3 separate regions of the Homo sapiens genome follow, and all the other regions are linked to region 1. The links come from fine-mapping of genetic effects on gene expression. A gene starts in region 1. Each other region holds a variant in brackets. All regions are shown on one strand. Distances are from middle to middle. Region 1 holds the start of SLC5A4 (solute carrier family 5 member 4). Region 2 has its middle 45 kb from the start of RFPL3. Region 3 overlaps BPIFC (BPI fold containing family C).

Region 1 (4,000 bases):
AGCAGGAATGCGCAGAGCTTGTAAGAAGCCAGGAGAAGACTCTTGATAAGGAGCAGAAGAAAAGAATATAAGGTGGGGCTGAGCTGGGGTCCTTCAGTGCCAGACTGAACCGGCTGTCATAATAGGTGACATATTGTAATGTCCTGGAATTACAGAGAGGAGCCATGAAGTCGGGGATTTAGGAAAGGAGCCCCAGCGAGTAGGCAACCAATGTACATCAGAAATGATCAACATTCCCAATGTTGTCTACATTCACTTTTTTTTTTTTGAGATGGAGTTTCATTCTTGTTGCCCAGGCTGGAGTGCAGTGGTGTGATCTAGGCTCACTGCAACCTCTGCCTCCCAGGTTCAAGTGATTATCCTGCCTCAGCCTCCTGAGTAGCTGGGATTACAGGCATACACACCACCACGTCCAGCTAATTTTTGTATTTTTAGTAGAGATGGTTTCACCATGTTAGTCAGGCTGGTCTCGAACTCCTGACCTCAGATGATCTGCCAGCCTTGGCCTCCCAAAGTGCTGGGATTACAGGCGTGAGACACCGCACCCAGCCTACATTCAGTTTTAAGCACACACACAGGAAATTTATCTCCAGAAAACTTCGATCCACTTACCGGCCACCAGGCCATATCACGACCAGCGAGGAAGAAGCCTCCTATAGTACCTCGGTTGGTCTTCAGCATCGCCTGAGCAGAAGGGAAGACAGGTGAGGGTCAAGCCCCAGCAAGTGCACCCAGACACCCCAGAGGCTCTGGCCAGGGTGCTGAGAGGGGTGACTTCAGCACTCCTACAGAGAGAAACATTTCGCTGGAAAGTGTTCTATAGCATCAAATTTTAAAGGACTTCAAAAACAGTCGCTTTGTAAAAACCCAGGGCTGGAAGAACTTAAAAAAATCATAATCCTTAACTTCTATCTTAACTGCTCTGATTATTCTCACTTATGAAAACCATGTGAGGTATCATTGAGCCATGCTTGCAATAAAATTTGCAGTCTCGGCCGGGCACGGTGGCTCACGCCTGTAATTCCAGCACTTTGGAGGGCCGAGGCGGGTGGATCACAAGGTCAAGAGATCGAGACCATCCTGGCCAACATGGTGAAACCCCGTCTCTACTAAAAATACAAAAAGTTAGCCGGGCGTGGTGGCGCATGCCTGTAGTCCCAGCTACTTGGGAGGCTGAGGCAGGAGAATGGCGTGAACCCAGGAGGCGGAGCTTGCAGTGAGCCAAGCAAGCGCCACTGCACTCCAGCCTGGACGACAGAGCAAGACTCCGTCTCAAAAAAAAAAAAAATTTGCAGTCTCAAATTTATTAAAATAAAAAAATTCAACATAAATGAAGAGTCCAACTCACTAAATCAGAAAGTGAGCAAACAACAAAAGAAAGCGAAAGAAATGCGATAATAAAAATACACTCTTTGTCCATTATGCCAGGTGTTGGGGATGCATAGTAAATCTGAAGGTCCCGGTGCTGGCTGTGTGCACACGATGGGGTTATTAGGAGAATACATTAGTTCATTGTAAGCGTTATTTATGCAACACACAAGAAAATGATTCTGATAACACAATGACATTTGTGAAAAGCTTTGTCACAACCACACCCCTTCCCCCCTTAAGATACCCCCTCCTAAACCTTGTGCCCACCCTAAAAGCCACTGGGATTCCACCTACCCACAGCCCAACAGCCATCACCACCAGAAAATAGATGACAATGACTGAGATGTCAGCAGCATTTCGGATGTGGTCAGACAATGGAGGTGGCTCTGGGGTCTCAGCTATGGTGCTGGGGCTAACCGTACTGGCCATGGCTGCAGGCAGTGCTATACCCATTCCACGCATGAGCCATCTTTATATAAGTTCTGGGTTAATGATCAGCCTCAGGCAGGTGGGGCGAGATATCAGAGCCAGCTCCTGGATATGGAGACCTTTAAACCTCTTCTCCAAAGCTGTGGCACCCCAGCCCTCCACCAGTGAGTGCTAGCCTAGGTAGAGTGTGAGAATGAGGGATGCAGGGCCAGAAATGAGGGGAGAATTTGAGGTGGAGCATGGGGCGTTCTCTGAGTGCAAAGACAGGGTCTTTAAAGAGATTTGCCCAGGTGGAGGGGGGATTTGAGAGAAATGAAGACAGACAAGGAGGGGAGAAGGACAGACTAGAAGGTACCAGAAACCAGCCAGGAGGGACCGAATGCAATGGTCCTTCAGAGAACAGATACAGTTTCTGACCAATGAGCTATATCCCTTGACAGTGAAGTGAATTATGCCTTTCGTGGATTCCAAAGTCCCACATTTCTCTGAAGTGGGTTTCATGTGCCACAAAAAGACATTGGTGGCCTGTATAGGAAAGGAAGTGGCTCTTCAAGCACCATATGTGGTGAGTTGAGGGCAGAGCTGTGGAGAGCGCTGGGTCAGAGGGTTGTACAAAGAGTGAATCAACCTGGAAGCATGTGATGGGGATCATGAGGACTCAGGAAACAAGACTCCTGGACTACAGCCAAGAAGAAGTTAGAAGTAAAGCCTATGCGGTGGCTGACACCTGTAATCCCAGCACTTTGGGAGGCCAAGGAGAGAGCATCACTTGAGGCCAGGAGTTCAAGACCAGCTTGGGCAACATAGGGAGTCTTTGTCTCTATAAAAATTAGCTGAGTGTGGTGATGCACACGTATGGTCCCAGCTACTTGGGAGGCTGAAGAGGGAGGATCACCTGTGACTGGGAGGTCAAAGCTATAGTGAGCCATGATCACGCCGCTGCACTCTAGCCTGGGCAACTGAGCAAGATCCTGTCTCAAAAACAAACAAAAAAAACAACAACAAAAAAACAAAACCAAAAACACACATGAAAAAACGGAAAGCCCAGAAATTCTTCTTTTATACTTCATTTTTTATTGTGGCAAAGCATACATAGCATAAAATTTACCATTTTAATCCCTTTTAAGTGTACAATTCATTGGCATTAAGTACATTTACAGTGTTATGCAGCCATTACCACTATCCATTTCCAGAACTTTTTCATCATCTCCAAACAGAAGTATGTACCCACTAAAAACTAACTCCCCATCCCTCCCTCTCTCCAGGCCCTGGTAACCTCTGTTATTCTTTCTTACTATATAAATTTGCCTATTCTAGGTACCTCATACAAATGAAATCATACAATATTTTCCTCTTTGGTTTATTTCACTTAGTATGACATTTTCAAGGTTCATCCATATTGTAGCATGTATCAGAATTTCCTTCCTTTTTAAGGCTGAATAATATTCCAATACTCATATATACCACATTTTGTTTATCCATTCAACTGTTGATGGGCATTCAGGTTCTTTCTATACTTGGCTATTATAAATAATGCTGCTGAGAACACTGGTGTGCAAGGATCTGTTTGAATCCCTACTTTCAATTCTTTTGAGTCTATATGTAGAAGTGGAATTGCATGTGATAATTCTGTGTTTAACTTTTTGTAGAACTGCCAAACTGTTGTTCACAGCAGCTGCACTATTTTACATTCTTTCCACAGTGCATAGGAGAGTTAATTTCTCCATATCCTCTTCAATACTTGTCATTTATGTTTTAATTATAGACAGGCTAGTAGGTATCAAGTGGGTATCACAATATAGTTTTGATTTACACTTCTAACACAATCACTAGTAGTGTTGATTTTTTCATGTGCTTATAGCCATTTGTGCATCTTCTTGGAGAGAGATATATTCAACTTCTTCATCCATTTAAAAATTATGTTGTATTCTTTTTTACACTGCTCCTTGTGGAGCAGGACTACCTCATTGGCAGTGTACCCAGAATAGCCTTATGTTGTATTTTTGTTGCTGTTGAATTGTAGAATTTCCTTTTTATTTCTCAGAGACAGGGTCTCATTCTGTCACCCAGGCTGGAGTGCAGTGAGGTAAGCATGGCTCAGTGCAGCCTCAACCTCCTGGGCTCAAGTGATCCTCCCATCTCAGCCTCCACCATAGCTGGGACCACAGGCACATGCCACCCATGCCTGGCTAACTTCATT
Region 2 (4,000 bases), 58 kb after region 1:
GAACACTCGCCGCCCTTGCCACCTTCACTGTATTCCCGCCCCAGCTAGAAAGCCAGCACAGTGAGCAGGGACCTGCCTTGCTCACTGTTGTGTCTGGTGAATGGATGGGCAGTCAGTGTGAGAACACTAGGTCTGATGAAATGAGGAAACTGGGTCAGAGGACACACATGTTTATTAAGCAGGGCCTCCTGAGCTAAGAACTGGGGGAGATTTGGTATCACTAACACCCATGGAATGAGTGTGTCTACACTGGCAGCGTGGCCTTTGGAGATGTTTGTGATCATTTAGGTGATGCCATCCATCTCATAGGTGCCCCGGGGCAGGAGTGGAGGTGATTAGCTCTGTGGGTGGATGTTACGGGCATCTAGGCTTATGTGGAAGTCCCAATTCAAAGCGGGTGGATTTCTAGAACCCTCCTCTCTGGGTTTCCATAGCCTCGTTACCCTGCCCAGCAAAGATCCATGTGTCTGTGTCTCCCACCAGATGGGAGGCTCCCCAGGGGCAGAGATGAGGTCTGACTCATCTTCTGTCCCCATCACTGCCCAGCATGGGGCCTGGCGCACAGCAGGTGCTTAGCCAGAATGTGCTGAGTGGATCAGCGCTCTCGGCGGTGATGGTGGAGAACTCAGGGCGACAGCCTGTGGAGGCATCAAGGAGATGCTCCTGGCATTGTGCAGGGTGTGCCCTGGCTGGGGATCACGTCATGTCCAGGGAGTTGGAGCCTGGACTTTGGGTTCCTGCACCCCTGAGGTCAAACGAGGGGTTGGTCTCCTCCTGGCCATGTGGCGCCTGGGCACCCCCCTTCCCCACTGTGAGCTTTTTCTGCAGCTTTTTCTGCAGGGGGTTAATCATACCTGCCTCCCACGTGGTGAGAGGGAGAGTGCATGAAAACACTTAACTTGGTACCTGCCCTGTGGTCAGCCTGAGATGCGTCCCTGAGTATTTTTGTTACAGGAATGAATTCTGTAAGAACCAACCCTGACTGGCATTTTCAAATCCCCAGTGCTCCCTGAGACACAGAGGGGCTGTACCCTGTGCTTAGCAAGAAGCTTGCAGCCTGAACATTGACACGGATGAGAACCCCCAGCCAGAAGGTAACCCGCGCCCATCAGAGAACTTGAGGGGGGAAGCCCCAATAAAAACCAACCAACCAAACAAGAACACCCCAAATCACACGCGCGCGCGCACACACACACACACACACACGCACATTCAATATTCTGACACAAATAGCCCCAAGGGGCCGCTATTGGAGGGAGCAGGGGCAAGGGAAGCTTCGGTTTTCAACCACAGGTATAACTCACAGGCCTCAATCCTCCTGGCTGGAATCAGCCAGAGTTGCTTTGTCTTGGTCATCCTGAGGCCACAATGAGTCACCTCTCAGAAGCCACCAGCCCAAAACAGGACTATCGCTTGTGGACAGGTGGCTCAGAATCCCCTCCCCTGCACCCCCAGCCCCTACCCCTGAGTTTGCTCGTAATCTTAGAAGTCCGCAGAAGGGGGCTTTGGGCACAGGCAGCATT[C/T]CCTTCTCTACCACCTCGGCTGTCCCTGGCATCTCTGTAGAAGTTGTCCTTCTCGGAGGCTGCACTGGGTATTTCAGATCTCATCTCCCCCATCCTGAGGCACAGCAAAAGGGTTTTCTGGAGGAAATACAAGGAAAAAAAATATCACATGGTGTCTCCTCAATGGGGACTCACTGGGGACATTTCTCTCTGGCCTCAGTGCCAGAAGAATCCAGGTTTCCTCTGAACACATGGGTTTTGTCTTCTGAACGTTGTGAACCATGTGACTTTAAGACTGGAAGCGAGACAAAAATGTCGCTATCATTATAGCTCCATATAGTACTAGAGCTCTGGCTCATGCAATAAGGCAAGAAAAAAAAGCATAGACTAGGACTGGAATAGAAGAACCAAAATTACAGTTAATTGTGGATAACTTACATAGAAAATTTAATAGAATCAACAGGTTAATTAGTAGAATGGAGAGTGCATACATAGAGGTATAATAGTCAACCTGTAAGACATCAGATCAATTTATAAAATGCAACAGTGTGCATTGACCTCAGCAGTTACTAGGGTAATTATATGTCATGGCTTGGGACAGTCTCAGTTGACACTTGTTGTTCTGACATAATTTTTAATGTTGTTCCCCTTTTACCCTCAAAAGTATTCTGATTTGGATGATAAATTATACTGTCACCCTTGCTATAACAAACTAAATATTAAACACAGATACAGATACCATTCATACTGACAAAAACGATCCTGTATTTTGGAATGACACTAAGATATGACCATGACCATGTCATACAAAGCTATAGAGAAGATACCAAGATGCTCCTGGAATAGGGAAGAGCCAGGAGAGCAGTGGAACAAGATCTACAGTGTGGAAACAGGTCTGCTGGGCACTTATAGCTTTGAATGGCAGAGTCAAGTTGCAAACAAGACAATGAGGAAAAGAAATACAAACTCCATCTGTGGCAGGCAGCATGAACCCCACTGCCCTGTGTCTATTACAAGAGCAATTGCCCAGCCACAACTACTTACCTTCCCAGACTCCCTTGCAAGCAGGGGTGGTCACATGACCCAGTCTGGCCAATGTCATGTAAGTGGGAGTCTATTGGGAAGGGGACATAAATCCAGGGGAAGATGAACTATCTTGCATGCATGAGAATGAAGGATGCTCACTAACACAGGTGGAGTAGAAGGCAGGGAGAAACTGGGTTCTGGTGGCAGCCCTGGACTGCCCCCTCCACACCACTGCAGTCAAATTTCCTTTACTTGCATAAATTGCAACTGGTGACAGTTCTTAACTGATAAACCATCTTCAACCAAACTACATGTTTTTTGGGCAAATGGAGAAGTCAAGGGAGTGGCTCCGACAAAGCCAGCAAAGCCCACCTCCCCAGAGTGAGAGATACGCCAAGAAGGAGAACCTACTCTCCACTCTTTGCATCAGTGGGAATGTGTACAGGGGCTAAGGGTGAGAGATTCCGTGGGGCCATCTCCTCAGCTTCACAGAACAAAGCCAGGTACTCTCCATCACCGACTTTTTTTTCTCCATAGCACACACCTCTATCCAGCATACCACCTATTGTACTTACTTGAATAATTTATTGTTTGTCTTCCCCACATAGAAAGTTAGCTACAAGAGGGTTAAGGTGATTGTGTGTTTTACACATTGCTGCATTGCCAGGGCCTAGGACAGTAACTGGCATACTGTAGGGGCTTAATAATGTTTATCAAATAAATGAATGAACCAAGAATTTAAAGCCCAATGAACCATCTTTCAAATATAAAGTCAACAGAAAAACATGTTGAACATATTTTTGAATTATAGTTCCCATGACCCCTTCTTAAAAAAATTAAGGACACCCTTAGGCAAATCAAGAATGATTCAGAAAAGTTTAATGTAAAAGGATGGGCAGATGATTTTTTTAAAAGTTCTGTGGATAGATGGCAGTGATGGCTGCTGTATTAATCCATTTTCATGCTGCTGATAAAGACATACCCAAGCAATTTACAAAAGAAAGAGGCTTAACTGGACTTACAGTTCCACATGGCTGGGGAGGCCTCACAATCATGGTGAAAGGCAAGGAGGAGCAAGTCACGTCTTATGTGGATGGTGGCAGGCAAAGGGACAGAGAGAGTGAGCGAGCTTGTGCAGGAAAATTCCCATCAGACCTCATGAAATTTATTCACTATCATGAAAACAGCATGGGAAAGACTTGCCCCCATGATTCAATTACCTCCCACTGGGTTCCTCCCATGACACATGGGAATTGTGGGAGTTACAATTCAAGATGAGCTTTGGGTACAGCCACAGCCAAACCATATCAGTTGCCCTACAGTGAGAAGGTACTTAATGCCCCTGAACTGTATACTTAAAAATGGTTAAAATGGTTATATGTTATGTGCATTCTACCACAATTCATAAAAAGGATGAGCAGAAGCATAACAAATGCAAATGAAGAGAAATCAGGGGTCAAGTTGTAAATGGA
Region 3 (4,352 bases), 170 kb after region 1:
CAACTTAGCGTGACTCCATGCTTATGGGTTTCCTCTTCCAGGCAAGGGTATAAAGGTATTTATTTCCTAAATCTTAAGTGTTATTTTCTTTCTTCTTCTTCTTCTTCTTCTTCTTCTCCTCCTCCTCCTCCTCCTCCTCCTCCTCTTCTTCTTCTTCTCTTCTTCTTCTTCTTCTTCTTCTTCTTCTTCTTCTTCTTCTTCTTCTTCCTCTTCTTCTTCCTCTTCTTCTTCCTCTTCTTCTTCCTCTTCTTCTTCCTCTTCTTCTTCCTCTTCTTCTTCTTCTTCTTCTTCTTCTTCTTCTTCCTTTTTTTTTGAGACGGAGTTTTGCTCTTGTCGCCCAGGCTAGAGTGCAGTGGTGTGATCTCGGCTCACTGCAACCTCCGCTTCCTGCATTCAAGCGATTCTCCTGCCTCAGCCTCCAGAGTAGCTGGGATTACAGGCATGCACCACCATGCCCAGCTAATTTTTGTATTATTAGTAGAGATGGAGTTTCACCATGTTGGCCAGGCTGGTCTCGAACTCCTGACCTCAGATGATTCACCTGCCTCGGCCTCCCAAAGTGCTGAGATTATAGGCGTGAGCCACCACGCCTGGCCTTGCCTTATTTTCTAAGTCAAAGCTCTTCACTACATCAAAGGCAGTATACTGTGGTAAGTAAATACTCACTGCTTTGAAAGCGGACTCACCCAGGTTCAAGTTCTGGCTCAGCCATTCAATAGCTCTGTGACCTTCAGTAAGTTATTTAATCTCTACAAACTGTAAAATGGGGATAATAGTACCTACCTCTAGGACCGTTCATTTAATCTACTGACATTTATTGAGCACTGTGCCAGGCCCTGGAGACACAGAGTTGTAAGATTTAAAATGAAATAATAGAGGTGTTGGGCTTGGCACAGGACCTAGTAGATGACAAAGATCCAATAATAAACAATAGCCATGAATTATACAAAAAAGGACTATTTCTTAGCTATCCATGGGCAGGATACAGGGGAGCGAAGTGTATTCTGAATCAGGGGACTCTGGAAATGATCTTGTACGATTGAGCACCTCCTTGTCCTGGCTGAGGCTATCTCTAAATTTGAAATCATAGTCAAAGCCAACAGCTAAGAAATAGTCTTTTTTTGGTACAGTTCATGACTATTCTTTATTATTGGGCCTTTACCGTCTATTAGGTCCCGTGCCAAGCCCGGTGCCTCTGTCATTTCATTTAAACCTTACAACTCCGTGTCTCCAGGGCCTGGAACAGTGCACAATAATGGTCAATAGATTAAATGAATGGTCCTGGAGGTAGGTACTATTATTCCCGTTTTATGCTTTATGGAGATTAAATAACTTACACCCAAGATCACAGAGCTATTGAATGGCAACCACACACTTTACCTGTATTAACTCTCATACTTCTCACAACCTTCTCCTGAAGTAGTCTTTATTACACCATTTTACAGAGGAGGAAATGGAGTCCAAGAGAGGTTAAGAAACTCGCCTGAGATGCCAGAGCTAATTAGTGGCAGCACTGGGATCAGAACCAGACCAGCTAGTCTGACTCCAAAGCCTGTGATCCTACAGTCTGTCTAGACCACCAACACGGGGTTTGTCTCTGATTTCTGTATTTGCTGTCTATGCAGCCAGCCCCGAGCAGCTCCAGGAAGAGGCACATTCAGGCAGGGGATAGTTAGAGAGGCCATGTTGTTCTGGGGAGAGTAATTTGGAGCCCC[C/T]GTGTTCCCTGGTTCTTCTCAGGGATGTTCCACTGATCTCCACCCACTTGATCCTTTTCCTGCTGCATCTCTCTGATATCACCCAAGACCAAACCAGCTCATCTTGAAAAGCCTGGGGAGCCCAGGAGTGGAGGAGCCAGCTGGGGCAGCCTGCATGGGAGGCAGGGCTAGGGATCCTACTGCCAGAGCCCAGGGCTGTCATTTCAACACAGCCTTGGCTCCTCTGCAAAGTCTTGCCTCCTGGTTTGGCTGCTTTAAACCTGAGTGAGGCCCAGCCCACCTGCCTTGCCCCCAGCCTGCTCACTGCCTGAGGTTTGCTATAACACCCCATGCAGGAGACACCCTCACTTGTGCTTAGAAGCCCCCTGTGCTTGGTTTAATGCCTTGCCATCTCTATCTTAAAATTCTTGACCAGGCACGGTGGCTCACGCCTGTAATCCCAGCACTTTGGGAGGCCGAGGCGGGTGGATCACCTGAGGTCAGGAGTTCGAGACCAGCCTGGCCAACATGGCGAAACCCCGTCTCTACTAAAAATACAAAAATCAGCCATGTGTGGTGGCACACGCCTGTAATCCCAGCTACCCAGGAGGCTGAGGCAGGAGGATCACTGGAACCCGGGGTGCAGAAGCTCCAGTGAACCAAGATCGTGCCACTGCACTCCAGCCCTGGCAACAGAGCAAGACTCTGTCTGAAAAAAAAAAAAGAAAGAAAGAAAAAAGAAATTCTTAATCCTTTTGAAAAGAGGCTCTGCATTTTCATTTTGCAGTGGGCCCTGCAAATTATGTAGCCAGCCCTGCTCAGACCCAGCTAAGGCATCAGAGCACCAGAAGTCTGCCCAGCGGAGAATTTCCAGGAGACTGCTGGGCAACAGACAACAAGCCAGAGGTCCTAATTTCAGGGTTCATGTTCATGAGGTCAAAGAACTCTGTGGACTGTAGGAAGCCAAGAGAATGAATTCACACATTTCCGGGATGATGTAAATTTATCGGCTTAAAACAGTTTTTTCTATTACTCCCATAAATAAACATAACAGCCATTGAACGTGCTGTTGCTTACTAGTATTATAGAAACATTAGAGATAAGGCTCAGTTTGATTTAAGCAGAAAAGTGAACCTGGTCTCCATGCTTCTTAAAGTCTTTTGCACCTTCTTGCCACAACCCTGAAGTTGAATCATGATTAAATTCTTCCTTGAGATCCTGCCAGTAAACCAGACACCTGCTCAGATGCAAGTGTTGTTTCTACCTTCTCTAGGAACCTTCTGCCTCAGTTAGCAGCCCTGCCCCTGTGCCCCGCCCCGCATCACTCCCCATTTCCAGCCTTTCCTTTCCTCCTGGTTCTTTCCTCTTTGTTTCCCAACAGACTGAGCATCACGGTCCCGATGCTCAGGCAATGCTATCCAGATTCTCTCCTTCCTTCCGCTCGTGGCCGATCTCAGATGCTGCCAATTTCTCACCTTTGGTTCCTTCCCCCCTCACCCTCATGCTCTCTGGCTTTCATCCTCTGTATTAGAACTGCCAAATATCACACCTGTAATCCCAGCACTTTGGGAGGCCAAGGTGGGTTGATCACGAGGTCAAAAGATCAAGACCATCCTGGCCAACATGGTGAAACCCCGTCTCTACTAAAACTACAAAAATTAGCTGGGCGTGGTGGCGTGCGCCTGTAGTCCCACCTGCTCAGGAGGCTGAGGCAGGAGAATCACTTGAACCTGGGAGGCAGAGGTTGCAGTAAGCCCAGATCGTGCCACTGCACTCCAGCCTGGGTGACAGAGCGAGATTCTGTCTCAAAACAAAACAGAACAAAACAAAACAAAAAAGAACTGCCAGATAAAGATCACTCTTCATGGTTCAGAGTTTCATCAGCCTGATTCCCTGGAAATGGGGTCACCTCATGACTTCTGGAGGCCTGAGGCACTTTTGTCTTTGGGGACCTTTCTTCTGTTAAAAAAAATGAAAATTATATTTTATAACTATTTGATATAAAGATAAGTATGATCAAGTCTAAATTGTATTCATTTTTAAAAATTATTATTTTAAAATACATTAAAACGTGTGTGTGTGTGTGTGTGCGCGCGCGTGTGTGTGTGTGTGTGTGCTTTTGGACAGGGTCTTGCTCTGTCGCCCAGATTGAGATCATAGCTCACTGCAGCCTCGACTTCTTGGGCTCAGGCAATCCATTCACCTTGGCCTCCCAAAGTGCTGGGATTACAGGTGTGTGCCACCCTGCCCGGCCTCTCATGGGCTTTTAAAGTATTGTGGCTCTAGGCACTGTGCCTATTGTGCCTAAAGGAAGCTAATGAAGAAGTCAGGACTGCTTTGAAGGGCTTGGTAAATGCGAGTAAACCTTCGTAAAACCTTTTCTTTCTGGGAAACCATACTACTTTAAACAAACAAACAAACAAACAAAACATTGTATTTCTGGGCATGGTGGCTCACGCCTGTAATCCCAGCACTTTGGGAGGCCGAGGCCCCAGATCGCCTGAGGTCAGGAGTTTGAGACCAGCCTGGCCAACATGGTGAAACCCCATCTCTACTAAAAAATACAAAAATTAGCCAGGTGTGGTGGCAGGCGCCTGTAATCCCAGCTACTTGGCGGGCTGAGGCAGGAGAATCACTTGAACCCGGGAGGCGGAGGTT

The links.
Region 2: its variant is fine-mapped to the expression of SLC5A4 in sun-exposed skin (GTEx, PIP 0.94).
Region 3: its variant is fine-mapped to the expression of SLC5A4 in cerebral cortex (GTEx, PIP 0.97).

Annotation. Positions count from the first base shown.
Region 1 is chr22:32,253,530-32,257,529 of GRCh38, forward strand. It overlaps SLC5A4 (solute carrier family 5 member 4), which reads right to left and starts at 1,818. Exons shown (of 15, transcript NM_014227.3): 1 at 1,666-1,818; 2 at 613-684. The coding sequence starts at 1,800. The region is part of intron 2 of SLC5A4-AS1 (SLC5A4 antisense RNA 1); the gene reads left to right.
Region 2 is chr22:32,311,181-32,315,180 of GRCh38, forward strand. It overlaps a transcript of SLC5A4 not described here. Among named protein-coding and RNA genes, the nearest start is that of RFPL3, 45 kb to the right of the region's middle. The variant C/T (reference allele first, on the strand shown) is at 1,524.
Region 3 is chr22:32,424,486-32,428,837 of GRCh38, forward strand. The region is part of intron 13 of BPIFC (BPI fold containing family C); the gene reads right to left. Among named protein-coding and RNA genes, the nearest start is that of RTCB, 14 kb to the left of the region's middle. The variant C/T (reference allele first, on the strand shown) is at 1,716.